4 linked regions of the Homo sapiens genome follow. The protein of the gene in region 1 purifies or fractionates together with the protein of each later gene. This does not show direct contact. Each region holds a gene or a part of one and is shown on either strand. Other genes may lie near its edges.

Evidence for each region.
Region 2: the proteins of UGT1A10 (region 1) and S100A7A purify together in Homo sapiens (affinity purification with mass spectrometry; 3 studies listed by BioGRID and IntAct, with this or other methods). This does not show direct contact.
Region 3: the proteins of UGT1A10 (region 1) and CRABP2 purify together in Homo sapiens (affinity purification with mass spectrometry; 3 studies listed by BioGRID and IntAct, with this or other methods). This does not show direct contact.
Region 4: the proteins of UGT1A10 (region 1) and SERPINB4 purify together in Homo sapiens (affinity purification with mass spectrometry; 3 studies listed by BioGRID and IntAct, with this or other methods). This does not show direct contact.

What each region holds. Positions count from the first base shown.
Region 1 is NC_000002.12:233,631,505-233,639,461, forward strand, and holds the start of UGT1A10 (UDP-glucuronosyltransferase 1A10 precursor), read left to right. Parts: upstream 1-4,943; 5' UTR 4,944-5,018; coding exon 5,019-5,873; intron 5,874-7,957.
Region 2 is NC_000001.11:153,412,214-153,419,529, reverse strand, and holds the start of S100A7A (protein S100-A7A), read right to left. Parts: upstream 3,011-7,316; 5' UTR 2,967-3,010; intron 1,465-2,966; 5' UTR 1,448-1,464; coding exon 1,307-1,447; intron 386-1,306; coding exon 221-385; 3' UTR 1-220.
Region 3 is NC_000001.11:156,702,584-156,709,923, forward strand, and holds the start of CRABP2 (cellular retinoic acid-binding protein 2), read right to left. Parts: upstream 3,001-7,340; 5' UTR 2,864-3,000; coding exon 2,794-2,863; intron 1-2,793. UniProt on the Homo sapiens protein: Transports retinoic acid to the nucleus. Regulates the access of retinoic acid to the nuclear retinoic acid receptors.
Region 4 is NC_000018.10:63,641,255-63,649,154, reverse strand, and holds the start of SERPINB4 (serpin B4), read left to right. Parts: upstream 1-4,898; 5' UTR 4,899-4,946; intron 4,947-5,532; exon of another isoform or gene 5,533-5,551; 5' UTR 5,552-5,577; coding exon 5,578-5,742; intron 5,743-5,937; coding exon 5,938-5,994; intron 5,995-7,266; coding exon 7,267-7,395; intron 7,396-7,900. UniProt on the Homo sapiens protein: May act as a protease inhibitor to modulate the host immune response against tumor cells.

The sequences.
Region 1 (7,957 bases):
TTCCTGAGTTTTAATGATTGCCATTCTAACTGGCATGAGATGGTATCTCATTGTGGTTTTGATTTGCATTTCTCTAATGACCAGTGATGATCGGCTTTTTTTGATATGCTTGTTGGTTGTATAAATGTCTTCTTTTGTGAAGTGTCTGTTCATATCCTTCGACCGCTTTTTGATGGGGTTTTTTTTTCTTGTAAATTGGTTTAAGTTCCTTGTAGATTCAGGATATTAGCCCTTTGTCAGATGGATAGATTGCAAAATTTTTCTCCCATTCTGTAAGTTGCCTGTTCAGTCTGATGATAGTTTCTTTTGCTGTGCAGAAGCTGTTTAGTTTAATTAGATCCCATTTCTCAATTTTGGCTTTTGGTTGTCATTGCTTTTGGTGTTTTAGTTATGAAGTCTTTGCCCATGCCTATTTCCTGAATGGTATTGCCTAGGTTTTTTTCTAGAGTTTTCATGGTTTTAGGTCTTATGTTTAAGTCTTTAATCCATCTTGAGTTAATTTTTGTATAAGGTGTAAGGAAGGGGTCCAGATTCAGTTTTCTACATATGGCTAGCCAGTTTTCCCAACACCATTTATTACATAGGAAATCCTTGCCCCATTTCTTGTTTTTGTCAGGTTTGTCAAAGGTCAGATGGTTGTAGATGTGTGGCATAATTTCTGAGGCCTCTGTTCAGTTCCATTGGTCTATATATCTGTTTGGGTACAAGTACCATGCTGTTTTTGTTACTGTAGCCTTGTAGTATAATTTGAAGTCAGGTAGCATGATGCCTCCAGCTTTGTTCTTTTTGCTTAGGATTGTCTTGGATATACAGGCTATTTTTTAGCTCCGTATGAACTTTAAAGTAGTTTTTTCCTATTCTGTGAAGAAAGTCAATGGTAGCTTGATGTGGATAGCATTCAATCTATAAATTACCTTCAGCAGTACGGCCATTTTCACAATATTGATTCTTCCTATCCATGAGCATGGAATGATTTTCCATTTGTTTGTGTCCTCTCTTATTTACTTGAGCAGTGGTTTGTAGTTCTCCTTGAAGAGGTCTTTCCCATCCCTTGTAAGTTGTATTCCTAGGTATTTTATTCTTTTTGTAGCAATTGTGAATGGGAGTTTACAATTTGGCTCTCTGTTTTTCCATTATTGGTGTATAGGAATGCTTGTGATTTTTGCATATTGATTTTGTAACCTGAGACTTTTCTGAAGTTGCTTATCAGCTTAAGGAGTTTTTGGACTGAGATGATGGGGTTTTCTAAATATACAATCATGTCATCTGCAAACAGAGACAATTTGACTTTCTCTCTTCCTATTTGAATACCCTGTATTTCTTTCTCTTGCTTGATTGCCCTGGCCAGAACTTCCAATACTATGTTGAATAGGAGTGGTGAGAGAGGGCATCCTTATCTTGTGCCAGTTTTCAAAGGGAATGCTTCCAGCTTTTGCCCATTCAGTATGATATTGGCTGTCGGTTTGTCATAAATAACTTTTATTATTTTGAGATACGTTCCATCAATAACTAGTTCATCAAGAATTTTTGGCATGAAGTGCTGTTGAATTTTATTGATGTAATCATGTGGTTTTTGTCATTGGTTCTGTTTATGTGATGGATTATGTTTATTGATTTGTGTATGTTGGACCAGCCTTGCATCCCAGGGATGAAGCCGACTTGATCATGGTGGATAAGCTTTTTGATGTACTACTGGACTCAGTTTGCCAGTACTTTATTGAGGATATTTGCCATCGATGTTCATCAGAGATATTGGCCTGAAATTTTTTTGGTTGTTGTGTCTCTGCCACATCCTGGTATCAGGATGATGCTGGCCTCATAAAATGAGTTATGGAGGAGTCCCTCTTTTTCTATTGTTTGGAATAGTTTCAGAAGGAATGATACCAGGCCCTCTTTGTACCTCTGGTAGAGTTCGGCTGTGAACTCATCTGGTCCTGGGTGTTTTTGGTGGGTAGGCTATTAATTACTGCCTCAATTTCAAAACCTGTTATTGGTCTATTCAGGAATTCTGCTTCTTCCTGGTTTAGTCTTGGGAGGATATACGTGTCCAGGAATTTATCCATTTCTCCTAGAATGTCTAGTTTATTTGTGTAGAGGTGTTGATAGTATTCTCTGATGGTAGTTTGTATTTCTGTGGGCTCAGTGGTTATCTCCCCTTTATCATTTTTTATTGTGTCTATTGATTCTTCTCTCTTTTCTTCTTTATTAGTCTGGCTAGTGGTCTATCTATTTTGTTAATCTTTTCAAAAAACCAGCTCCTGGATTCATTGATTTTTTGAAGGGTTTTTTGTGTCTCTATCTCCTTCAGTTCTGCTCTGATCTTAGTTTTTTCTTGTCTTCTGCTAGCTTTTGAATTTGTTTGCTCTTGCTTCTCTAGTTCTTTTAATTGTGATGTTATGGTTTTGATTTTAGATCTTTCCTGCTTTCTCCTGTGGGCATTTAGTGCTATAAATTTCCCTCTGAACATAGATTTAGCTGTGTCCCAGAGATTCTGGTAGGTTGTGTCTTTGTTCTCATTGGTTTCAAAGAACTTATTTATTTCTGCCTTAATTTCATTATTTACCCAGTAGTAATGCATGAGCAGGTTGTTCAGTTTCCATGTAGTTGTGCAGTTTTGAGTGAGTTTCTTAATCCCGAGTTCTAATTTGATTGCACTGTGATCTAAGAGACTGTTTGTTATGATTTCTGTTCTTTTGCATTTTCTGAGGAGTGTTTTGCTTCCAATTATGTGGTCAATTTTAGAATAAGTGCAATGTGGTGCTGAGAAGAATATATATTCTGTTGATTTGGGTTGGAGAGTTCTATACATGTGTATTAGGTTTGCTTGGTCCAGAACTGAGTTCAAGTCCTGAATTTCCTTGTGAATTTTCTGTCTCGTTGATCTGTCTAATATTGACAATGGAGTGTTAAAGTCTCCCACTATTATTGTATGGGAGCCTAAGTCTCTTTGTAGGTCTCTAAGAACTTGCTTTATGGGTGCTCCTGTATTGGGCGCATATATATTTAGGATGGTTAGCTCTTCTTGTTACATTGATCCCTTTACCATTATATAATGCCCTTCTTTGTCTTTTTTGATCTCTGTTGATTTAAAGTCTGTTTTTATCAGAGACTAGATTGCAACCCCTGATTTTTTTTGCTTTCCATATGCTTGGTAAATATTCCTCTATCCCTTTATTTTGAGCCTATATGTCTTTACACGTGAAATGGGTCTTCTGAATGCAGCACACTGATGGGTCTTGACTGTTTATCCAATTTGCCAGTCTGTGTCTTTTAATTGGGGCATTTAGCCCATTTACATTTAAGATTAATATTGTTATGTGTGAACTTGATCCTGTCATTATGATGCTAGCTGTTTATTTTGCCTACTAGTTGATGCAGTTTCTTTATAGTGTCAATTGTCCTGACAATTGGGTATGTTTGTGCAGTGGCTGGTACCGGTTTTTTCTTTCCATATTTAGTGCTTCCTTCAGGAGCTCTTGTAAGGCAGGCCTGGTGGTGACAAAATCTCTCAGCATTTGCTTGTCTGTAAAGGATTTTATTTCTCTTTCACTTATGAAGCTTAGTTTGGCTGGATATGAAATTCTGGATTGAAAATTCTTTCCTTTAGGAATGTTGAGTTTTGGTCCCCACTGTCTTCTGGTTTGTTGGGTCTCTAAAGAGAGGTCTGCTGTTAGTCTGATGAACTTCTTTTCGTGTGTAACAGGACCTTTCTCTCTGGCTGCCCTTAACATTTTTCCTTCATTTCAACGTTGGTGAATCTGATGATTATGTGTCTTGGAGTTGCTTTTCTCGAGGAGTATCTTTATGGTGTTCTCTGTGTTTCCTGAATTTGAATGTTGGCCTGTCTTGCTAGGCTGGGGAAGTTCTCCTGAATAATATCCTGAAGAGGGTTTTTGGCATTTTTTAAAAAATTATACTTTAAGAGATCTGGGATACATGTACTGTCGTATACTTTTAAACAATCAAATCTCATGAGAAATCACTCACAATTGGGAGGGCAGTGCCAAGCCATTCATGAGGGATCCATGCCCATGACCCAAACACCTCCCACCATGCTTCATCTCCAACACTGGGGATTATATTTGACCATGATATATGGAGGGGACAAACATACAAACTACGTCAAAGGCAAAGCATGGCTACTGTGAAAGAAGGGTAAAAACACAGAGATGGCATCACCTCTGACTTCCAGGAGTCCTCAGCAGACTGAGGGAGACAAGTACATATTTTCCTGAAAGAGGTCACTGGAGTGATGGTGTGTTTAGAATATAGAAGTAGAGCAGTCACAGAGAGGCAGCCCAGCAGAGTGTTCGCACAAGGACTGGGCCAGCAACTCCCCACTGCATGCAACGTATCTGAGGAAAGTCATTAAAATAGGTGATGGTCACTTTCCATCAAGTCCCTGGTATGGTCCATGGAGGCAGGGTTGTCAATCTCATTTTGGCATTTCAGAGGCCTCTCAGGGTTTGGATATGGAAGAAGACAACCAGCAATGATTATGCATTGCAGAGATGCAGGTGAGCCCCAGTTTCTTGCCAGTTGGGAGGTCAGTGCTAAGAGCCTTGCTGTCTTTCCCTGGAACATGAGATGCCAATTTCTTTCTGGACAGAGAGTATTTGGTTGGCTAAAGTCAAAATCTAAATTTTGCTTTGGGATAAATTCCAAAAATATTAGCATTATTCAAATTTACTTTCACTTTATCTTTCCGAATCTTCAAGGTCCAAAAGCATTGCTGAATAATTCTGTTTCTAAACTCACTTGCAGCGTGCTCTCCCTCCAAGGCGAAGACCATAATCTACTCTTGTCTGGAAATCATACAAGTAGGTATCTCAGCAAATGATACTCGTGTGTTATCGTTCTTATGAGTAAATCATTGGCAGTGAGTGTGATTTTTTTTTTTTTATGAAAGGATAAATACACGCCCTCTATTGGGGTCAGGTTTTGTGCCTGTACTTCTTCCGCCTACTGTATCATAGCAGCTTAGAATCCCAGCTGCTGGCTCGGGCTGCAGTTCTCTCATGGCTCGCGCAGGGTGGACCAGCCCCGTTCCTTTATGTGTGTGTCTACTGCTGACCTGTGGCTTTGCCGAGGCAGGGAAGCTGCTGGTAGTGCCCATGGATGGGAGTCACTGGTTCACCATGCAGTCGGTGGTGGAGAAACTTATCCTCAGGGGGCATGAGGTGGTTGTAGTCATGCCAGAGGTGAGTTGGCAACTGGAAAGATCACTGAATTGCACAGTGAAGACTTACTCAACCTCGTACACTCTGGAAGATCAGAACCGGGAATTCATGGTTTTCGCCCATGCTCAATGGAAAGCACAGGCACAAAGTATATTTTCTCTATTAATGAGTTCATCCAGTGGTTTTCTTGACTTATTTTTTTCGCATTGCAGGAGTTTGTTTAATGACCGAAAATTAGTAGAATACTTAAAGGAGAGTTCTTTTGATGCAGTGTTTCTGGATCCTTTTGATACCTGTGGCTTAATTGTTGCTAAATATTTCTCCCTCCCCTCTGTGGTCTTCACCAGGGGAATATTTTGCCACCATCTTGAAGAAGGTGCACAGTGCCCTGCTCCTCTTTCCTATGTCCCCAATGATCTCTTAGGGTTCTCAGATGCCATGACTTTCAAGGAGAGAGTATGGAACCACATCGTGCACTTGGAGGACCATTTATTTTGCCAGTATCTTTTTAGAAATGCCCTAGAAATAGCCTCTGAAATTCTCCAAACCCCTGTCACGGCATATGATCTCTACAGTCACACATCAATTTGGTTGTTGCGAACGGACTTTGTTTTGGACTATCCCAAACCCGTGATGCCCAACATGATCTTCATTGGTGGTATCAACTGTCATCAGGGAAAGCCATTGCCTATGGTAAGTCACCTCTCCTTTAGCACATTAAGAATAATCTGGCTTTGGAAATTAAAAAAGGATTCCTTACTGAACTGTGATTTGACATTTTCGTTTGTTGCATTTCAAATTTCTTTCCAGTTTAACAAATTATTTTGTGCGAATTCATGTACTCATCAATTATCAAATTTTATAAAACTGCCCTTCTTGAAAGTATATGTAATAATTTAAAAATTATAGATCATATTCAGGCTACATTTTAAAATACGATGTTTAGAAAAGTACCAAAAACCACAGCAAGAAATGAAACTTCCGTTTTTTGTTAATTCTATGTGACCCCGTAGTTGAAATGCTCTTAAGTTTTGTGTACATTCTTTTCATTGAAAAAAAGTATTTTAGGCATATGCAATATCTCATGTAAGTTCCCATACCTATTTAGTAAAAATAAAATCTAGTATTGGGCTGAACATATTCTTCTTTATCTTGCATTTTTCACTTGCCAATAAATTATGGGTACCTTTATAGAGCAATACAGACAGATTTGACAAGTTCTTTTAATAATTGCATAAAATTCTTTACTTTGGATACAATGTAGTTTTTTAACCAATTAATATTGATATATATATAGCCATTTTCCACTCTTTCCTTTTGTGAATAAGGCTGTGTAAACACTCTTCAATACTTTCCTTGCGTGAATATATTTCTATATTCTTGCTTTTATCTTAGTAGACTAGAGTCCTACACGTAGGGTTACAGGGTTTTCCTGAATTGAGAAGACTGGCATCTTTTTGCTATTAAGTCTTCCTGTTCAGGAACATATATGTCTCACTATTTATTCAGATCTTGTTTTATATACATAAATAAAAATTTTCACTATATAAGCATTTTATGTTTGTTTTTAACATTTATTCCTTGGCATTTTATTACTTTAGAAACTATTTTGTACAGGGCAATGTTTCCATTTCTACATTTAACTGATTACTGGTAATTAAAATTTTGGTTTTTGCATATGTATCTTGTATCCAGCCACATCACTAACTTTTCTTATTATTTTGTAGTATGCATTAGATGTACAATATACAATACCATCTGCAAGTAATTCCCTTGTCTGATATTTGTACTGCTTCTTTTGCTTTGCTGGAGCATATACTTCCAAAATATTATTGAGTAATATTGTTAGAGTAGCCAGTTTAAATAGGGATTCGGTTGCTTGTGACTGAAAAATCCTTGAAAAATACCAGAATAAGATTCTTGGCAAACGCATAGTTGCTAAATCCAGATGAAACACCTGGTGTCTCATCTCATTATATTATTTTATTAGGGGTGGAGTACACATTTTTATGTATTGTTCTGGTTTCTTACAAGATTCAGTAGACTTTGTAACACAGTTATATCTGTCATTGGCAGATGGTTGGTGAAAGAGTGACCGTTCAGCCATCTCATAGGAAAGTGAAATAATGCTCTTTCTAAAAAGCAGGAAGACTACAGTTGTAGGCCTTTCAAAATTAGGCATGACTTTCAGCTCATGGCAAGACCAGGCGAGGAGATGCAAGTTGCAGGACTCTAAGAGGTTGGACTTATCAAAGCACTTTTCTCCTCGTTATCCTCCATTAATTACAGTACCAAGCACCACCCATGTGTTGCCTACACCCCACAGCCTTCGGCCGAGTTGAGGATCTGCCACTTCCTGAACCCACGCTGAGTTTATTGTGGCTCACAGGGTCACCTAGAGGCCTTTAAAGATATAAAAACCTATATATGATTTTATATCACCTGTGATAGAGGGATATCTATAAAAAATGAAACATTAAACTATATATGGTTTCATTTATTTTGATTGTAAATATCTTTTATGAGATATGAAATAAATGTGTTTCTATATCTATTAAAGAATATACACATGTATGAAAGTTTTTATAGTTTGCAGAGGGTTATGTATATTAATGTATATTTTTATGATTATACCTGTAAAGGCAGCAGAATTCTCACAGAGGAATTCGATCTCAAAGAGGGCTTTCTGTCAAAGAGCCTTGGATATGGCCCAACCACAAAAGTAAAAGTAAATTGTCATCAAAAGAACGATGAACACTGCATATTGCTCTTTCCTT
Region 2 (7,316 bases), on another chromosome or scaffold:
TCAGCTCTGCTGGAGGCCATAGGGGGAACGTTGCTGGAGGGACATTACTCCTGGGTGACCCACTGGATGGGGGTGGGGGAAATTCTCCAACAAAGTTAACCTGGAATTGGTAGTTTTGACAATGTAGGTCACCAAAGAGAAGAAGAAATAAGGCAAGTGTCTGGTGGGAGGAGACACTTATTGTTCCTGGGGTCTCTGGAGGCCCCTTGGTGGGGCTGGATCACTGGCTTCCCCCAGAACAGGGCGCCGCTCCATGGCTCTGCTTGTGGTAGTCTGCGGCTATGTCTCCCAGCAAGGACAGAAACTCAGAAAAATCAATCTTCTTATCCTCATTCTTGTCCTTTTTCTCAAAGACAGTGGCGAGGTAATGTATGCCCTTTTTGTCCTGTGAAGAGAAAAACATACAAAATAGAAAAATTCAATCACAAACAAGTTTTGGGCTGGGAGGGGAGAGGAGGAGGCAGAGATACAGACAAGTACCTAGATCTGCACAGGCATGGTCGTGGGGCTGAGAGCACAGGGTGAGTGGGTGAAGTTGGGGTGAGGACGTGAGTGTTATCCCTGGAGTTCTCTAAGGAGACTTTTTGTCTCACACCTCAGGATGGGAGGCAGGTCCTGTCCCGAGGCACTCTGTTAAGTGACCTTGGGGAGAGCAGTCCCCTGCCCCAGCCTCAATCTTGCCTGTTCCCAGCATTTAAGGGCACTGCCTACCTTAGTTCTACCCCAGGGCCTCAAAATTGGCCCTCATGCTTTGTTCTCTTCTTTCTCTGACCTCCTCTCCTTTCTTCTCCTTTTCCACCAAACTCATCTTCTGGGTTCCCTACTCTTGGTCATCTAGACCCTTTGGTACCTAGTAGCCCACAGGTTTTTTCAGATTTGCCAATGAGTTTTCTTTATTGCAAAGAGGGCTATTGATTTCTACTAGCAATGGAACTTCTAGTGCTTTCCCAGTAATCTCAGGGATGTTGATGTGGGGCCTTTGGGAAGCAGGACCTGAGCATGTGAGTTTCAGTCTCACAGAGAGAGGGTCAGTGAGCGCTGGGAGGGGACTGTGCACTGTCCTCAAGCTGCACACTTTGCTGACCATCTAATAACCTCCTTTATATCTGTATAACTCTTTCCCATTTTCATACTTTTTCGCCTACCATCCTTAGATTCACATATGATCCAAGCAATAAAGCCCTATTTGCAAATGGGAAACTTTTTAATCAGAGGATGAGGGTGACCTGTCCAAGGCCACATAGCAAAATGTATCCTCAGCCATGCCAGGGTCCAACCAACATTGAGAAGCTAGACCCCAACTCACACAGGCACTGAGGAAATTGGGGAAGTTCTCCTTCATCATCGTCAGCAGGCTTGGCTTCTCAATCTTGCCATCACGTCCGGTGTATTTGTGAAACATGTCGATCATGCCTATTATGGACCTCTCAGCTTGAGTGTTGCTCATCTTTGCTTTCAAAAAGCCTTCAGGAAATAAAGACAATCATTTCTTACCTTAGTTTGAATTAAGGTCTCTATGTGGGGGTGTTAGAAGGAGGGCTGAGGACAGAGTAAAAACAGCCCTAAGATGGAGCAGAAGGAACTTGATTTTTTTAAATGTGATGGGATAAGTTGTTCAAAAATGAGAGGGTAGGACCAAGTCTGAGACCCGGCCCATCCTGGCCAGGGCCAAGAAGAGATGCAGGTGGATGGCAGAAGTCCAGCTGTGGACAGTGCTTCAGAGAAGGAGAAGCAGGGAGAGTCGGAGGCCAGCAACACATAGAAGAACTAAGCTGGGACCCCCCAGCCTCAACCAGCACATGGCGGACCCCACTCTTGAAACAGCACCAAATCCATCTCCTCCAGCTTCACAGTCGGGGTGAGAGTCACGGGGGCAGGACAATGGCCTTGGTGATCTGGTGTCTGACCCTCCTCGGCTGCTTCAGGAACCAGACACCGTGGGCCCCACCTTGACTCAAGTGCAAGCCCTGCATGACACAGTGCGTGCAGGCTCCAGGTGCACATGTGAGCGTGGACATGAGTGTGAGCAGGAAACACAGCCCTCTCCCGAGGACAGGGGGCCCTTCCTACATTCCCTTGGGAATGAGAAACAAGAATTGCCTCTGTTACAAGGAACAGAAATAACTCCCTGGTTCTTAAGCTGCTGGATGGGGTGGGAGTGAGGTGGGAGTCGCTTCATGTCTGCTCTTGGGAAATATCTGCACCCTCTGAATCACCAAGGGTTGACCCTGTTTAAATAAAAATGTCTGACTTTCCAAAGCAGATCTTCCAGCCAGTAGCCAGCCTGGGCTGCCCTGCACCCCAAGCCTGAAAAATAAGACAGTGCAGCTCTCATTTCTACACTTTCCAAAGAACCAGAAAAGGACCTTGGCTAACGCATGTGGGCATCTGACAATAAACCCCCAACACCTCTCAACGCAGGAGAAAGCTCCGTGCCAGCAACTGACTAAGAGAAGCCACTCAAAGCTTTCTGAATCTGAGGCCAAGGCCAAGGCCAGAGGCCAAGCCCTGTGCCCAGAGATTGACTGAGAATTTACAGGTCCAAGGCCTGGGGGTTTGGAGAGCCTCCAAAGCATTCACAGGGGATCCTTATCCCTCCTCCCTCTGTGGGGGCAGAGCTGGGGAGGGGATTCAGCAACTGGGATCCCAAAAGGAGAATGAATCCAGGGAGGAAGAAGACAGGAAGGAAAGGGAGGGTCCTGTGCTCAGGTCCCACTGGGGACATTTCCACAGGAGTTGTCTCAGGAGATCCCAAAGGAGCAATGGACAGGTCTGGTTCAGCCACCTGGTTGTACAGACGTGGGCTTTTGGGGTCAAGTGAAGGTCACACAGCCCAGCTAATGGCAGAGCTGGCCTAGACCCAGGCTTCTGAGACTTTGTCCACAGCCCTTTCCCTTCCTACAGGCAGCATGGCAGGCTGGGCACTGGGCACTTCTAGAAAATGCAAAGAGGCAGGTGAGACTTACCAGAACTGGGAAGTGTCACGAGTAGAAGGATGAGTGAGATGTGTGTGTTTGGACAAAGAGCAGTCCTTTATAAGGCTCAGCCTGGCTCTTCCCACGGGTTGGGAGGCCTGGGGCCACCTCTGTCATCTGTTTCTTGGAGGCTTGTCCCATATCAGGTGTGTGGGACACACCCAGGAGGCTGTGCTCAGGATTTCTGGCCAGGGTCCCAGGTCACCAGGTCCCACCCCACCCCAGAGACCTCACCTGGGGCCTTCTCTGGCTCAATCTTGATTTGAGGGTAAGGCAGCGGTACATGTGTAGTAACAGGTCAGGAAATGGGAGAAAAGAGCACTGGGCCTCTGGACCCAAAGAGAATGGAGTTTCAGACTCCCAAAGGCAGCATGGTCTTGTTTATTCCCTCCCCCAGTACTTCCACACATTTGTTGTGACAGCCTGTTCTATGACCCCCACCGCTTACTGAGCGTTTTAATGTCTAGACATCAAGACACCTGCTGCTCTTGCATCCTCCTCAACCCTCCCCTCATAGTCTTAAGAAGCAGGTGCTGCAATCTCTATTTTAGGAAAGGAGAAGTTGAGATGTTCCCAAGTTTACTCAGCTAGTAAACACAACAAATCATCACACGAACAAAGAAAAGCCTGAATCAAATCCTTACTCTTATCCCCTGTGCTATAGGTCTTGGGTTGCATCAGGGTCTGCCCTATGGGAACTCAAAGTCCAGGGAGGGAAGCAGGATTACTTCATTGCTAACCATTGGTCAGCCCCTCACAGAAGCCCTGGATTTAGGTGGGGGGACTGGGGTCAGGGGCCTCACTATCTAGGTTGAGTGGTGGAGTGACCCCCGCCCCCCCCGCCCCATGGAATGAGCCTGGAGGTAGGGAGTGGGAAAAGTTCTTTCCTGCCCCATGGCACTAACTTCCCAGAAAGTCTTCAGTGTTTTTCCTCCTCCTATGCAAAACAGCCTGTGTAGGAGTTGGGAGTTGTGCCCTTGGCTATAATGTGCCCTAACCTGCTGTGGAAAGCCTGAACCAGGTAGGGGCAAGAGGGTTGGGAAGGCACAGGAGTCCCTGGGGCATGGTGAGGAAAAGGAGATGATGAATCACTGAAATGGACTTTTTCTGCTACCCCCTTACAATGTTCCTTGTAGGCCGCAAGAGGTCCTGGTTCATTTAGTGCCAGCCCTTTAAGCACTCTGGGGCTCCATAGAGCTGATGTGATGTCTCCCTAGGTGGGACCTATTTTCTCCACCCATCATCTTTCTTCAACTTCCTTCTCTGTCAGTTCTTATGTAACCAGGGGGACCTGTTTCTCCCTCTCCCAGTTTCCCATATGACGGCAATATTACTTTTAGCGGCAAAAGATACACACACACACACACACGCACACACACACAAACACACACACAAACGCACACATACACACACACACAGACGAATACTACTCAACCATAAAAAGAATGAAATGATGACTTTTGCAGCAACATGGATGGAACTGGAGGCTATTATCTTAAGTGAAATTACTCAGAAAAAGAAAGTCAAACACTGTGCACCCTCATGTGTAAGTGGGAGGTACATCATGCATACAGATGGAGGTAGAGAGAGAGTAGAATCATAGACACTGGAGACAGTGAAGAGCAGGAGGTCAGGTGGTGGGTGAAGGAGGAGACATTTCTTAGTGGGTACAATGCGTGTTATTTAGGATGGCTGCATTAAAAGCCCGGACTTCACCACTGTGCAATGTGTTCATATACATGTGTATGCAGGTTTTTGTGTGGACATAAGCTTTCAGTTCTTTTGGGTAAATCCCGAAGAGTGTGATTTCTGGATCCTATGGTAAGAGTATGTTTAGTTTTTTAAGAAAGCACCAAACTGTCTTCCCAAGTGGCTGTACTATTTTGTGTTCCTGCCATCAATGAATGAGAGTTCCTGTTGCTCCACATCCTTCTTTAGCATTTGGTGCTGTCAGTGTTCCAGATTTTGGGCATTCTCATAAGTGTGTACTGGTATCTCATTGTTGTTTTAATTTGCATTTCCTTGAGGACATATGATGTGGAGCATCAGCTGATATGCTTATTTGTCACCTTCTGTATCTTCTTTGATGAGATGTCTGTTAAGGTCTTTGGCCCATTTTCTAATTGTTTGGTTTGTGTTCTTATCTCTGAGTTTTAAGAGTTCTTTGTACGTTTTGGATAACATACAAAGTCTGATATGTCTTTTGTAAATATTTTCTCCCAGTCTGTGGCTTATCTTTTCATTCTCTTGACAATATCTTTCACAAAGCAGAAATGTTAAATTTTAAAGAAGTCCAGCTTATGAATTATTTCTTTCATGGATTGTGCCTTGGTGTTGCATCTAAAAAGTCATCACCAAAACCAAGATGATCAAATTTCCTCTTATGCTACCATCTAGGAGTTTTGTAATATTATGTTTTGCATGTAGGTCTATGATTCATTTTGAGTTACATATCATCACTGTTTATAAAAAAAAGGAACAGAAGAAATGCAATACAAAAGGAATCAGGGACAACAATATTAATACAAGACAACAAAGAATTCTAAGAAAAGGGATTAAATGAAAAAGAAGAATATTTCCTATTGATTAGTGTGCAAGTCACCAAGATGCAATAGTCTTATCTTTTTTTTCTTTCTTGTTTTTTCTTTTTTATGAGACACACTTTTGCTCTTGCAGCCCAGGTTAGAGTGCAGTGGTGTCATCTTGGCTCGCTGCAATCTCCTCCTCCTAGGTTCAAGCGATTCTCCTGCCTCGGCCTTCTGAGTAGCTGGGATTATAGGCGCCTGCCACTATATCCAGCTAATTTTTGTATTTTTAATAGAAATGGGGTTTCATCATGTTGGCCGGGCTGGTCTCGAACTCCTGACCTCAAGCGATCCACTCATCTCGGCCTCCCAAAGTGCTGGGATTACAGTTGTGAGCCACTGCACCTGGCAATAGTCTTATCCTTATATACACAAGAACATAATATTGAATTATACAAAGCAAACATTGAAATAAATTAATGAAAACTGACAAATTTATATCACTTGGCAGTTTCTGGCAGAGTCTGCCCAGGAACTCAACAGAGTCGTCAGATAACAAAACACCAGTAATGGTGCAGAGCAGGGCGGGCAGATGCTGCCACAGCCCAGAAGCAGCCCTGGACATAAGGGCCCCGTGGATGAAGACAGCTGTTTCTAGTAAACACTAATCTCCAGAATTGGTTGGCCAGCTGGATTTGGCTTTAAGACCATAATTTGCTGATTCCTGATACAAAATATTTGAAGGACACACTTAAATTTATTTATATACACGTGCATTCATAAATTTGTGCCTGACCATAGAGAATACATATAAATTTCTTTTTTTGTATTGAGGTTCTTTATTAAATTAATTATATAATCTGTATTAGATAATTAACGTTTTTACAAAAATTATTATTATACTTTCAGTTCTAGGGTACATGTGCACAGCGTGCAGTCTTGTTACATATGTATACATGTGCCATGTTGGTGTGCTGCACCCATTAACTCGTCATTTACATTAGGTATATCTCCTAATGCTATCTCTCCCCGCTGCCCCAACCTCACGACAGGCCCTGATGTGTGATGTTCCCCTTCTTGTGTCCAGGTGTTCTCATTGTTCAATTCCCACCTATGAGTGAGAACATGTGATGTTTGGTTTTCTATCCTTGCGATAGTCTGCTGAGAATGATGGTTTCCAGCTTCATCCGTGTCCCTACAAAGGACATGAACTCATCCTTTTTTATGGCTGCATAGTATTCCATGGTGTATATGTGCCACATTTTCTTAATCCAGTCTATCATTGATGGACATTTGGGTTGGTTCCAAGTCTTTGCTATTGTGAATAGTGCTGCAATAAACATACGTGTGCATGTGTCTTTATAGCAGCATGATTTATAATCCCTTGGGTATATACCCAGTAATATGATGGCTGGGTCATATAATGGTATTTCTAGTTCTAGATCCTTGAGGAATCGCCACACTGTCTTCCACAATGGTTGAACTAGTTTACAGTCCCACCAACAGTGTAAAACTGTTCCTATTTCTCCACATCCTCCCCAGCATCTGTTGTTTCCTGACTTTTTAATGATCGCCATTCTAACTGGTGTGAGATGGTATCTCATTGTAGTTTTGATTTGCATTTCTCTGATGGCCAGTGATGAGCATTTTTTCATGTGTCTTTTGGCTGCATAAATGTCATCTTTTGAGAAGTGTCTGTTCATATCCTTTGCCCACTTTTTGATGGGGTTGTTTGTTTTTTTCTTGTAAATTTGTTTGAGTTCATTGTAGATTCTGGATATTAGCCCTTCGTCAGATGAGTAGGTTGCAAAAATTT
Region 3 (7,340 bases), on another chromosome or scaffold:
CCAACGTGGAGAAACCTCATCTCCACTTAAAATAAAAAATTAGCCAGGCATGGTGGCACATGCCTCTACTCCCAGCTGCTCGGGAGGCTGAGGCGGGAGAATCACTTGAATCCAGGAGACGGAGGTTGTGGTGAGCCAAGATTGTGCCATTGCACTCCAGCCTGGGCAACAAGAGCAAAACTCTGTCTCAAAAAAAAAAAAAAAAAAAAAGCCAATTGGGATGGTATGTGTTTAGGACTTAGCACACACAGTGCCAGGCATATGCTTAAGTTTTCAGGAAACAATAGCTATGATTGTTGGTATTATTTTTACTGATAAAAGGAAGGCAAAGGGTCAGGTGCCATGGCTCATGCCTGTAATCCCAGCACTTTGGGAGGCCGAGGCAGCAGGACTGCTTAAGCCCAGAAGTTTGAGACTAGATTGGGCAACACAGTGAGACCCTACCACTAAAAAAAAAAAAAAAAAAAAAAAGGAAAGCAAAAAGCTGGGGCTCAAAGCTCTCTGCATTAGGCACCGTACTCATCTGCCCTTCTGGAAGACTCCCATACCCCTGTCCCCTCAAGGGAACCCCCTCTGCTGTGAGAAGAAGGAATAGAAAAGGAGACTGCCCTCCCCGCTCTGTGTGATGTATCCCCTTCTTCAGGACCCCCCACTCCCCTCACAGGGTCCGGCTATCTCATTCAGCCTCGTGGATTCAGACTCTCTGTGCACCTCCATATCCCAGCCCAGATTGGACCCCTTCTCTCTGCTCCCCAGTTATTAACCGAAGTGGGGGAGATAGGAGACAGCACCCCTCTGAAAGGAAGACGTGCAGAGCAGGGGGCCTCTCTGGATGGGCTCCAGGTCTAAGCTCCACACACCCACCTCACCTGGCCTGATCTGCCGCCCTGTCCTGGAGTAGAGCCAGGGATGCACTAGGCGGGGGTGAAAGGGCCCTCTGCCAGGTAGCAGGATTTCCCTGCCCCTGATCTGGCCAACTCCCTGGACCTCCTCCAGACCTGGGTTCCTAGAGAAACAAATCCTCTTTCCCCTCAGTGCCAAAGCATACCTACCCTACTGCAAACAGAAGAGAGAGGGAGAGAGGAAGCCTTGCCCCTGGGGAGCCCAGGACCCCCATTGTTGGCTGCTGAACTCTTGTGTCTAGGAAGAAATGACAGGTCCCCAAGTCTTATTGAGATGGACCCTTGACTAGAGCTAAGAGGGGTGTGCCAGGACCGAAGTTCCTGCAGAGGCAAGGCTGGGTTCAGAGGAGACATCCTTTCAGCGAGCCCCTGGTGCCTGTGGAGCTGAGGGCCCAGCTTAGCCGGCCTTAGCTGGCTCAGGACTGTGTTTGTCTAATGGATCTGTTTTTAATCTGCCCCCTGCAGGGCCTGAGGAGGGCACGTGGCTCAGAGAGACCCTGCAGGGAGGACAAACAGACTGAAGACAGACAGCAGGATTGGGGCCTTGAATCTTACTCTTCAGCTGGGGCCTGGGGGTGTACCAGACCACCACCTCATCCACTGAGGACAGGGGCCAGAATCCAGAGAAGATGAGGAGGGAGTGGCATCTAGGCTTTCCAAAGAGAAAATTTCTTTTTGTCTTTAAGTTTAGCAAGGACAGAGCAAGAAAGACTGATATGACTCCAAGAAGTATTGTGGTTAGATCGCAGGAAGAACTAACGGCAAGGACTGATGGAGATCCCTGCTCTCTCTGCAGCATTCCAGACCTGTCTTAGATCCAGACTCACTCCTATAGTCCAGGGAGAGGGGTGCCTTCCCTCCCTCCCCTCTCGCCCAACCCAGCCGAACTACCGTCTCTCTGTTGAGTGCAGGAATTGAAGGCAGCAGGCCTGCCCTTACGCTCCCAGTGGCTGGGGTCCTTAACTAACGTCCATCTCTCCCCCAGAGTCCTCTCCCAGTCACCAGGTCCTGGCACTCTCCCCTGCCCCAGATGTCTAGCCCAGTTGGCCCAGAGGGCACACAGAAGGTGGGCTGGAAAAGTGGGAAAGGCAGTCTGGATTGACTTAGTTTTCCCCACCTTTGACCAACACACCCAATTGGGCTGCAGCCGATCTATGGTCGGGGGAGGTAGGTGGGAACCTAGATTTTTGGAAATGTGGGATTGGGGTTTCACACGAAACCATTTGTTGAAATCCAAGAAAGTGATAATTATCCCTAGCGATTTTAGAACTCTGGAGCTGCTCGCTGTATGAAAATACTTGTCTCACAGATGGGGGGTGGGGAGAGCAGAGTGGAAAGTGCAGAGGGGGAGGAAAGTGGGGCTCAGGGGGCGCTGGGGCAGCAGATCACCTCGCAGGCAGAGCTGGGCGCCGAGGGGTAATGAGCCTGCCCTGGGGATTGGGTTACCGAGGGGGGCACCGGGAAGGAGATTGGAATGTCTCCGAGCGGCTGGGCAGGGTAGGGAACCGGGCTCCCAGTCTGGATGCAGGGTTCGTGGCTCCACCAGCCCGCAGCTTCTGAACTGCAGAGAGCCAGGTGCCTCGGCCCGCCGAGTCCGGCCGCTGAGGCCAGCCTCCCCTTCCCCCAGAGGCCAACCTCGCGCTTCTGGTTTCTACGTGATTCACAGGCCGTGAGTCACCGCAGTGTTGGCACCGGTGGGCCCCCGCAGGAGAAAGCGGGATTTAGGCGTCGTGCCCAGAGCCCCGGGACCCGGACGCCTGGCACGTTTTTCGGGGATGCAGGCACCCAGTGTCTCACGCCCTGATTGTGGTCCCGCTGTCTTTCTCATCCCCAACTTCGAGGACTCCAGAGCCCCCCCTTGCCCCACCTGGGCCCTCGAACATTTCCTTACCCAGCACTTTGAGCAATTCCTCGAAGTTTTCCGATCGGATGATTTTCCAGTTGCCAGAGAAGTTGGGCATGGTGGCGGCGCGGGAGGCGGTCCCCGTAGACTCCTAGGCTGGAGCACTGGACACTGTCTTTTAGTCAAAAGAGACGTCGCCGTCGCCGGGTCGTCAGGTTCTGGAACCAAGACAAGTCCAGGGACAACCCCAAAGCTGGCCTGGGCTCCCGCGCGGACAGCTTTTATACCCTGTACGGAACCGCCCCTGCCCAGGATTGAAGTGGCCCCGCCTCCCGCTCCGCCCCCCCCCACCTGGGGGGCCCTGCGCCCCCGCCACCAACCTCTGGATCTAGCCCGCGTGTGGGTCCAGGCTTCTCTGGGGACCGAGATAGCCTTCTCCTGCGCTAGTAAGTGGATGGGGAAGCGGACGCAAAGCCAGCACTTGAATCGCGCTCTCCGCAGAGGCGGGGGGAGCTAGCTGCGGGCGCAGATGCTCAGGGCTCGTGTATGGCTGTCCCCCACCCGAGTTCCTCACGTCTCGCCTGTTCCCCACCCATCCCCAACCTGACTCGGTGCATTCAACTCCTTGGTGCCGGACACCTGGCGACCCCACCCGCAGGCGGACCCCAGATCTTGAGCCGTAGCTGGCCCTAGCTCCATTGAACCCTGAACTGGATCCAGTGGGACCACTCCGTACTCAGAGAGGGGCTTGGGAGCTGCGGGGTTCCGGGGGTTAGGGATCTAAGTGAGGCAACGGCGCCCCCTGCTGGAACAACTCGGAGAGGCTGGGCGGGGGCGGCACGGTCCCCCCACCCCTCCACCCTGCTTCGGGCTCACGTAATGCCTGGGGACTCTGGAAGTAGTCGCCAGGCGACTCGCTCCCCTTAATGCGCTGGGCGGACATTGAAGGGTTAAGCAGGAGCCCAGGGCGCGAGGCTGGGAGGGCAGAGGTCACAGCCAATCACTTGACGCAAGGTCTTTATTAAAACGCTTTCTCTGTCGCTTCACTCCCGAGACCCCGAGGGGGTCTCAGTAGGGGGAAGGGAGGGAGGCGGGGACAGAGGCGCGGAGCCCTGGCGAGCTGCGCCACCACCTAGATAGGCGGGAGGATGGGTGCCGGGGGAGAAGGCGGAGCAGGGTCTCAGGTGTCACCATCCTGAGCTGTAAAACGGGCGGAAGGAGCGACCTCCCCTCCCTTGGAGAGCGGCTTTGAAACGGGAGATCAAAGAGGGTGGGAGGAGGGCACGGCTTCCTGCAGAGACCCGAGTGGGAGTGGGCGAGACCCCAGTGGAGATGGCAGGGAGACGGAGAAACAGAAACGGAGGTCAGGCGGGGAGCCTCGGGGACAGGCCTGGGACCCGAGGCCGGAAACCGCAGAGGAGCGAAGCCTGGCGGGATGCAGTGATTGGAGCCAAAGGAACCGTCCCGGCCTGTCCAACGCGGGGGGGCCTTCGGCCCGGTGGCCCTGAGCGAACCGATGCACGTGGCCCCGCCGCATCCCATCCCCCACCCTCCCCAGACTCTCCCTCCCAGCTCCTTCTGAGGCGGAAAGAAAAACCCTACATCTGGTCCCAGCCCTGGGTCCCTGCCCTGGCCCCTCCTCGCCAGCGTGGCCAAGGGTGGAGCAGGCAGTCGCTCTCAGATCTCTGAGCCCTTATGTTTAGAACCTAGGGGCGATCTAGGGAGTTGGGAGCTTTGGTGGGAGCTGGGGAAGAGTCTGGAGGAAGATGACCAAAGGAGAGGGGCCAGAGTGACCTCAGCATTAAGAACTGAAGGCTGGAGAATGTACTGGGGGGTCGGGCCTCCGGGTTGCAGAGAGGGAAATCTGCAGAAATGGGTGGGTGAGAAAATAAAGCAGCTGGGCTGACTGGGCAGCAGGAGGGATGGAGATTCCACTGCATAGGACTTCTCTATGGGGCCCCGCCCGCAATAGCCAACAAACTGAGATTTGAATACTTCAGCCTGGGTTTAGGGGTCCAGGTTTTGTGTGGGAGAGCTTACTTGGGGGTGTTTGGGAGGCCTGGGCTTCTGCAAGGAAGAGGGCAGCAGGTCAAGGAGCTCTCTGAGGAAGGACAGACAAAAGCAGAGATGGTGGAAGGAAGCGGGGTGGGGCGGGGTGGGGGGTTCCCTGGGAAGTGCTTAGGGCCTGGGGTTGCAGGCACAGCCCCAGCTCCTCCCCCATCCTCCCTGCTCAGCAATGCTGTAGGTAAAGGAGGGGGATTAGGCTCTGACAGTGAAATCAGGCTCCTGGCCAAAGGGATGAGGAGAGGCTAGAGGAGGGAACATGGTGGAAACCAGATTCCTGCTGCCCCTCCTTCCCTTCACTGCCCCCTGCCTCCCCCACCCAGGTCATTTCGTCCATCTCCATGCCACCAGCCCTCTTGAGCCCCCAGCTGGAAGCGCCCAGCCTCCTGCTCAATAAGCATCCCTCCTCCTGCACGACAAAAGGATCAGTGCACTCTCCCCCCTAGCCTTGTGAGTGACTAAAGATGTTAAAACCTCACCCAAAAGATGGTCACCAGGATGCAGGGACAGTCATAGGAGGGGGTGATTGGCCCCTCGATGCTAGAGCAGGGGAGCACAGGCTGGATGGCTTGGCTGAGGCTGCTGGGGAGGCTGGAGCCAGGCAGTGGGGCTCCCTGGGGTGGGGGCAGGGAGACCTGGGCCCACTCCCCTCTCCTCACTTCCCCACTCCCTCCACCAGCCAACTGGCCATGATTTCCAAAGAGACAGAAGTAAGACAAAGGGAAGTCGGGCTGGGAGAGGAATTCTTTCCAGATGTGAGCATTTGCGGTTTGGCAGCTCTGGGCCTGAGCTCCAGCTCCAGCCCCAGCACCCTAACCCTGGCTGAGGGAGGTGGGTAGGGGGTCTAAGCAGGGTGCTGAATAGCTGAGGCCGAGGTCTCAGCCTCTAGCAGCCCTGTTACCCCAGGGAGCAGCAGGCACGGAGGGTTCTTAGGGAAGATGCTAGGGAAGGGGACTCGGGGAGGTGGAGGGGTAGGAGATGAGAGAGTGGAGGGGCCTGGGGAAGGGGACTAACCAAGGAGGATGGAGATGCCTAGAGGCAAGGAGCAGGGGCTAGGACCCTGGAACCAGGCAATGGGGAGGAGCTGCAGCCTTCATCAGCCACTCAGTCACAAACAACTGGCTTTAATTTCCCGCTGGGATCAATAAGGAGAAGGAATTTCCCAGTGCCTCTGGCCTTTTAATTATGACCTAATCTGCTACAGATCTGCCCAGGGTGACCCTTTGCAGGAGCTTTGGTCATAACCCTCTTGGGGCCCCCCCAGGAATCTGGAGACTCAGTGAGGGGAGGGTGCAAAGTTGATGAGAAAAGCTGGGGGGGCAGAGGTGGGATAGGTAGGGGTGGAGTGAGGAGGAAACAAGCTCGAGAGACTTAGGAGAGCAACATTCTGGGACTTTGTTCCATGGTGGTGTGGCTAAAAGGAAGGTGGCTGGTCTTACACCTGAAGGAATAGAGATGGGCAGGAGAGGGCTCCTGGATGGTGAAGAGTGTGAGTGGGTGTAGATGTGTATATAACTGAGGCGTCTAGGACTTGGGGAGAGGAGAACCCCCTCCCCTTTCCATTACTTCTTGAGGCTAGCAGGGAGAAGGAGTGACCACCCAGCCCAGCCGCTGGAGAGGGAAAGGTTGACTGGGGATGGGAAGTGTGGGAGAGTGATTAAGCCCCCACCCTCACCCCTAACCGGGACCATGGAGATTCTCTGGCCAAATTCAGCATTTGGAGAAGAACCTCACCCTGGGCAGTGTTATTGTATCTGCTGGGTCAGAGAGTTTGTTGGCTGGAACGCATGTAGAAATTAAACCCAGGTGGGGCTAGACACCTGGATCTCTGCTACTCCGCATAGGGGCAGCAATGAATTCAGGACTTCTACGGAATGCAGGGAAGTCTGAGAGTAGAAGAGAGGGGCTGGGAGCAGCTGGGGCAAGAGAGTTCTGTCTCCTGGCCACCCTGAGCCTTCAGGATTCCACTTAGCACAGAGCACAGACTCAGGCAGGTTGCCCCCCAGTCTGGCCTGATCCTTGGTACAGAGAAGAGTGCTGCTTTCTTTTCTCTCTGGGTTCAGGGGCCCAGCCCTTTTCAAGTCTGAGAAGGCCAGGCTCTGATTTGCCCCAAATGAAATTGTCCTCACAGCAGGATAAATAGGAGTTAGGCCTGAAAAAAGTTCCCAGCAAACTGAAGTGCAAGCAGGGAGAAGGGTCAGAAATCTAGAAAGGAGGCAACTCATTTCCCAGAAACATTTGCATGCAGGAGAGAGATCGTGAAAACTAGGGATGATTAGGGTAGAGAATCCTGAGTGACCTGGGTAAAGGGGCAGCTGGACCCAAAGGCAGGGGATGACAGTAACCTCCAGGGCTAGCCCTGAGGCCTAGCAAAGAGAGGCAGATGTGGCCCAGTAGGGTCAGGACCACAGACTGGGAGGAGGGGGCTGACCAGGATTACAGTCAGATAAGGAGAGGGTCTGCGCAGCATCCAGGTGGCCAGGCGGTGCCTCTGACTGTGACAAGAGGCATTATAGGCAGACCAGGGAGGA
Region 4 (7,900 bases), on another chromosome or scaffold:
AGCTCACTGCAACCTCTGCCTCCCTGGTTAGAGCGATTCTTCTGCCCCTCAGCCTCCCGAGTAGCTGGGATTATAATTGCCTGCCACCACGCCCGGCTGATTTTTGTATATTTAGTAGACACAGAGTTACACCATATTGGCCAGGCTTATCTTGAACTCCTGACCTTCTGATCCACCTGCCTCGGCATCCCAAAGTGCTGGCATTACAGGCGTGAGCCACCATGCCTGGCCCTATTTTTATTTTTTTGTAATCTTAGTAGAGACAGGGTTTCACCATTTTACTCAGGCAGGTCTTGAACTCCTCACCTCAAATGATCTGCTCCCCCTCAATCTTCTAAATTGCTGGGATTACAGGCATGAGCCACCGCACCTAGCCTAGGGTATATATTTAAACATAGAATTGCTAAAATAACTAGATATGGCCAAGTTTTTCCAAAATAGTTGTACCAGTAAACATTTGCAACAGCATTTTTGTCATTTTTATTTGTCCACATCTCACTAATCCTATGTATTTAAGAATAGTTAGTATCATTTACAATAACAAAGACATGGAACCAACACAAATGCCCATCAATGACAGACTAGATAAAGAAAATGTGGAGCTCTCAGGCTCCGCCTAATTTATTGGTTTATAAGCTCTTTGTTCCTAAGGCAGATGAGAGCAGGAGGAAGGGATGAGGAAAAGGATTAATCAGTGAAAGAGAACTCATGAGTCATTCAATAAGATGTAGAGCAGTAGCGGTTTCTGGGAATTTCTTTGAGCAAAGGCATGTGTCTAAACTACGTAAGATCTTTAACTTATAGGGACTGAAATGGGCGGGAGCGGGTTTCAGGAGGAGCCAAGACGTTTGATTATACTCCCCTGCTTCAAGGGACTGTTATCTCCCTGAGCAACCTGTGGAATACCGCTGAGCTGTTATGCTCTCGGGGCATAAAGACATGAAGGCATAAGGAGACTTTTCTCCTCAGAGGCTGCCCATGGCTACGCATGGGTGTCTCACACAGGGGAGACCAACTCAACTGGCACCCCAGAAACTCTCTTTCCCACAAGAAGTACATGGTATACTTGCATAGCCAAAGAAATTAAAATAGGCCATTGAAGACAGAGAAAAACAATGGCTAGAAAAGGCAGTAGGAATAAAAGAGAAGATCATGCTTCCTGGCTTCATGGCATGAGAATGGGGGAGTGAGTAGACATCCATGAGAAAAGATCAAGGAGCATGCAGCCATCGGGGAAAATCCATAGTGCAGATAAAGCAAGGAGGAAGAAGAAGGACAGTTCTAGTAAAAGGGAGAACATCAATATAGGATGTTTCTTAGCAATAGAAAAAGAAGGCCAAGAGGAATTAGGGAGAGAGTTATAAGAGATCAGCAAGGGGACAGGGTTAGATTTGGTTTGGTTTGAAAGCATACAGTAAATATGATGTCTGTCCCTGGCAGTGTTGGCAGAGTAGGAAGGAGGAAGGGAGGCAAGAGATAATATCATTTTCTCTGTGCTCCAACTGTACTTACATATGAGACTATTTCCCTCTCTGCTTTTCAAACCTTACTGGAGTTGTTTTCCCTCATGAAAACCAAGAAAGGAAAGCTAGTTAGTCTTGTTCTGAGGTTGTTCAATGTATACATATCTATATCTGTAGACAGAATCCTTGGGAATACAGTAATTGACATATATTCTGTTATTTGATGCTTGAAAAATCTCCTCCACTAACCAGTTTCCCTATAGATTGCCACAAGCACATAATAAGAAACAATAAATAAAATGTTCTCTTGACTTTGTTACTTAACAATGCTGAGAAAACTTTACAGCCTTCATAAGGAAGTGAGGTCCAGGAAAATCTAGGAGATATTTCTTAACCAATCTATAAAGGCATTAGTAATGACAGGATATTTCCTGAAAGTGTAATTTCCCATTGAGGATTTGTTTTTAATTTCTGGATTCCTGGAGCCAATGAAGTTGGTGTATGTTTATGAAATATCAAGAGACATAAGTTGGCAAGTGTTCATATGCAAAAACTTCTTGGAATTTCTGAGTTCTCTGTGGCAATATATGACATCAGGATATGTCCAGTCTCACACACCAGGATATGTCCTTTCTAGCCTGTCTATCACATGCTAGGAGAACTATTTAGGAACAGAAAAAAATGCCTGAAATGATTTCTCATTTGAACTCATCCAAGCTTTCTCTAAATTTAAGCAAACTCCTGGTCATTTTCAGTTAGTACCTTTCCTTAAGTTCAACCTTCAGGGCAAACCTCCGTGCCTCAGGACGTTTAGCCATAGTCTGAAATTCTCTTCCATAGATTGGTCCCCTGTAACCCCGGTTTGTCTCAGCTTGTTATCCTGTTTTTTTCTTCCCTCCATTCCCAGGATGAGCTTGTTGCTTCTGTCCTATGAGACATTAGATTCCTTTTCTTTGGTACCCGAGTAAATCCATCCTACTCCAATAGAGGAAGGTCCATTTTTGTCTTATAGCGCTGGATGCAGACTCAGCTGAGAAGACCATTATTCATTTTTGGAATTCTTTATCTCAGATATTTCCTCTTCTTTCTTTTTCTTCTATCTTTGGATTTTTAGTCCATCAACGCCCCATTAGTCTATTCCCCGACTTCAATCAGGGAACTTATACCTCTTAAACTCATTCAGAGACTCAAAACATATATATTGATACAGGAGACCTAAGAAGAGCATGTCTTGGGGGTTGAGGAAACAGGCAGGTGAGAAATTTCCAGATTGGAAACACAGCTTCCTTTCTCCCATCCAGCCCCTACTTTCAGCCTATGTGTTTCTGGCACCTTGTTGTAGATAAATCTCCCTTGACTTTGTGATGTGCTGAGAAAACAAACTCACGGCTGGTGTTAAAAAGGGCCCATGACAATACCAAGTGTTGGGGAGAATGTGGAGAAATCAGAACTCTATTCACGGTCGGTTGGAATGCACACTTGTGCAGAATTCTATGGAGAAGAGTCTGGCATTTCCTCAAAATGTTAACCTGGATTTACCATATGACCCAGCGATTTCATTCATAGGTTTATACTCAAAAGAAATGAAGAAATATGCCATGCAAAAAAATGTACATGAAAGGTCACAACATCATTATTCATAATAGTAAAAGGATGGAAACAACACAAATGTCCATCAACTTATGATTAAAGAAAATCTGGTCTATTCATAGAATGGAATATTATTCGACCACAAAAAGGAATGATGTACTGATCCATGCAATGATGTGGACAAACCATGAAAATAACACTAGATTAAAGAAGCCAGTCACAAAAGGACTTACTGTATGATTCCATTTACCTGAAATGTTTGGAATAGGCAAATCCATAGAAACAGGAGGTAGATTCCTGGTTTCCAGGGTCTCCAGGAAGGGAAGAATGAAGTACAAGATTTCTTTTGGAGGTAGTGAAATTGTTGTGGAATGAGATCATGATGATGATAGCACAACTTTGTGAATATAATAAAATCATTGAATTGTACAGTTGAATTTATGGTATATAAATTATATGTTAATAAAAAGGGGGTCCACAAAACAAACAGCCCCCCACTCTGGTTGTCAGGGAGATATTGGATTAAATGGCCTTGGACAACAACCCCTCTCCCTGGCCACAGACATTCTTCAGATTACAAGATATTCCAGGGGAAACACTGGAATGAGTCTGAAGCCAGGTGCTAAACAGAAGGACCATTGAGAAATGTTGTGATCCTGACAGGTCAAGCAATTTATTTTTCGGCTTCATTTTTAAATGTAAAATTAGAAAGCTGCCATTTAAAATGGCCCGTCTGTTTCAATTGCTCTTCTCAGTGTCAGCCTGTTAACTCAATGTGTTAGTCTGTTTTCATGCTGCTGATAAAAACATACCTGAGACTGGCAAGAAAAAGAGGTTTAATTGGGCTTAGAGTTCCACGTGATTGGGGAGGCCTCAGAATCACAGTAGGAGGCAAAAGTTATTCTTACATGGTGGCTGCAAGAGAAGATGAGGAAGAAGCAAAAGAAGAAACCCCTGATAAACCCATCGGATCTCCTGAGGCTTATTAACTATCATGAGAATAGCACAAGAAAGACCGGCCCCCATGATTCAATTACCTCTACCTGGGTCCCTCCAATAACATGTGGAAATTCTGGTAGATACAATTCAAGTTGAGATTTGGGTGGGAACACAGCCAAACCATATCACTCAGCAAGGCAGATAACTTTCTCACTGAGCCTATGCAACAGAAAACCATCTGGGATGGTTGTAAGGGGCACAGGAAGTGACTGGTAGGATCACTGCCAAAGCTGAGCACTCAGGAGAAGGCAATAGAATCCTATTCTCCATAGTATGCTATAAGATACTGAAGTACACTTCTTCACTATCTCTTTGGACTTAGAATTAGCACTACATTCCTTGTTATACAGAAAAATTACTAAGGAAATTCATAGGATGACAAAAACTTTCAGAACTGAAAAACAGGAAATGTAAGCTTTTTAGTTCTTTGGTATTCGAAGTATGCCTAAAAGACAATGCAAAATCCAAGAAAAGAATGGTGGGGTTTTTGTTTGTTTGTTTTTGTTTTTGTTTTACAGCTGGAGTAGAATACAAAGGGATGGAGTTGAAACAAATGAGAGGAAATTGGAATTCTAAACTTATTCTCATTGGCATTAGAAAGGCACCTACATGTATTTCACATGAGCCGGTGACTGCTGACTTGCATTCTTATTTTTTCCCTATAGATTAAAAAGGAGGTACAATGGTAGAACTGTAATCCTGTCCTTTGTCATAAATTTTCATATTCATAAAGGTGAGTGTTAGCCCGCTTGTGAAATCTGAAGTTGAGTAACTTCAAATACTAACCACAGAGGGAAAGGCAGCAAGAGGAGAGGCATAAATTTAGGATCTCACCCTTCATTCCACAGACACACACAGCCTCTCTGCCCACCTCTGCTTCCTCTAGGAACACAGGTAAGAGCTTCAAGCCTCTCCAGCTTAATAACATGAATTATTTTTGAGAATAATAATGATACTGTGTTCTATATCATGCATCTCCTGCATTCTGTCTGATTATATTTTACTTATTCTGCCAGAGCAAAATTAAAATACCTATTTCATCTGATTTGTCCTTTATCTAAATTGCTTAGTTCCAAGTAAACCAAGGCACTTTTAGGAACACAGAGGGAGAGTGCCTTGCAGCCAGAGAGTCTTGAAGGAGATGTCAGGGACGCATCTTAACAGCTGGTTGGATGTGATCCACAGAGGTCTCCTGTTAGCATTCATTGTAAAGCCATCCTACCTAGCTCTAGTGTAACCAGCAATGAAAGAAAGATAAAGAGGGTCGATTACTTATTTACAATAGTCTTTAAAAACGTAGTTTTGTAAGCCTTCTAATTAGGACATTAATATATTTAATATATGCACATTGTAGAAAGATTGAAGCGTTAAAAATAAGAGAAAAACTTTAAATGTCAAAATCTCACAACCCAGATATATCATTTCTTTAAGAAAATTGTACTACAAAATACCATTCCATTTATTAAAGTCATTCTGACAGGAATCTGATGCTTTTCCAGGAGTTCCAGATCACATCGAGTTCACCATGAATTCACTCAGTGAAGCCAACACCAAGTTCATGTTCGATCTGTTCCAACAGTTCAGAAAATCAAAAGAGAACAACATCTTCTATTCCCCTATCAGCATCACATCAGCATTAGGGATGGTCCTCTTAGGAGCCAAAGACAACACTGCACAACAAATTAGCAAGGTAGCTATCAGCATCATTACGTTGTCCTGTTGCAGTTTTTCTCTGGTTCCGTCGGCTAGCACGCAGATGGTAATAGATGTGGTGGTCTGATGGGTAGCACAGGGGGCTGTGCAGGAATTCCCATAACTGTGAGACCACTGACTTAAACAGATCTTTTGAGTAAAGTTTTCTTGTCCCGCTTCATGTCTCTTCCAGGTTCTTCACTTTGATCAAGTCACAGAGAACACCACAGAAAAAGCTGCAACATATCATGTGAGTCACAGAGCACTATGGTTCAGCTTTAGATCCCTGAACAGGTCATAGTTTAAACCTGGAACTTCACAAAAACTAAGAAAAGGCCAGTTTTAGGGAAAATCTTGGACACAAAGATTGAGACATACAGAGTGGGTTGGCATTTCATGGCACATAATTATTATTCCTCATTTCTGCGTTACTAAAAGACAGTCAGCACTGTACCTCAGAGCATAGGTCTGGATCAGGATAGGCTGGGTTCAGACTCCAGCTTTGCTCTTCACAAATGATGAATAAGAGCAGGACACAACTGCTCGGAGTCCCAGTGACCTCATCCCAGAAAACTAAGGGTAAGAAAAAATCTGACTCAATACATGCAAATACATGCAAATGTTTACAACAGTGCCTTGCCCATAAAAGTCATAATAAATGTTATTATTATTATAAAGTAGCTATAATTATACTAATCATAATAATGTGAAAATAATTTAATTTTCATTGAGTCATTAATGAGATTCAGAGGAATAAGCACAAGTCCAAGTATATTTTGGAAAATGATTGCTATGGAATATATTGGTTTAGAGCCTTAATAGTGCAAAATGCTTTGCTGGAAGGTAGAAAGTTCTAGATTTAAACAGGCTTAGGTTCAAAACTTGGCACTTCTAATTTATGTCTCTATAAACAGGGTTTTTTTCCCCATTCTCTGAGCTTTCTTGTGTTCATCTGAATTGAACTAAAGACTTAGAGTTACCCATGTAAAGTCCTTAGCCATGGACCTGGCATACACTCTTCTTACGTGCAGAGAATGACCATCATGAGGAAAGAGCCACAGATCAGTCAATGTGTCCTACAAGATAATAGCACCAACAGGTATAACAGGGCTTCCTGGCATAATCTATTTAAAATATCCAACCTTCAACATACTCGTATCCTTGATGACTGTTAGAAGTGAAATATGGTCCTTGCCCATAAGGAGCTGAGAGTTTAACTGGGAAGCTAAACCTAACCCTTTAAACCAACAAGGAGAAAATCTACTGGTAGACAGCGCTGCATCTTTAGTTCAGAAGAGAAAAGATTGCAGTACGTTAGAGCAAGAAGAATTTTCTGGAAGAAGTCAAATATAAGGTGGATTTTGAAGGGTATTTGAGGTGAAATACACCAATTATCAGGGAATAACATCAAAGGTCCTCAATGAGACTACCAGCATTTAGGGACTGATCTAACAGACTTAGCATGGGTTTAGTATTTACATTGATACAGCAATTGAATGATCTCCCTTTTTGATGTTTGAAGGTTGATAGGTCAGGAAATGTTCATCACCAGTTTCAAAAGCTTCTGACTGAATTCAACAAATCCACTGATGCATATGAGCTGAAGATCGCCAACAAGCTCTTCGGAGAAAAGACGTATCAATTTTTACAGGTAATTTCACCTGGCCTACCCACATTTCATTTGCATCCTGATGTCTGTGTCTCTGAGTGGCCAAATGGAAGAAAGCAAGGCAGATGAGCCTGGCCGACTCAGGTGGAGAGCATTTACTCAGAGTGCATTAGCTCCATTTCCACAACTCTCCCCCACTGGAGTGTCCCAGACCCCAACGATACATCACTGAAGTGTGGATTTAGGGATAATCTTGTGATAAAAGAGGAGGTTGTGTAATAGAGTGAGTAAGAGTAATAAGTAATAAGATACCATCGATAAACTGGCACTGACTCAGTCACATACGATACATCTTGGTGGGAAATGTATGACTAATGGGATATTATTGGAATGGGCAGGCTTGGGTGAGTTCCTGAGAATAGTTGAGGAAGTACCAGGAAATATTGAATGCACAGGATGAAAGACAAAAACAAAGATCAGAAACATCATGGTTAAAATTACTGGAGAGAAGTCTGAGAAGCAATGAATCTCCTTCAGGGAAGCCTGC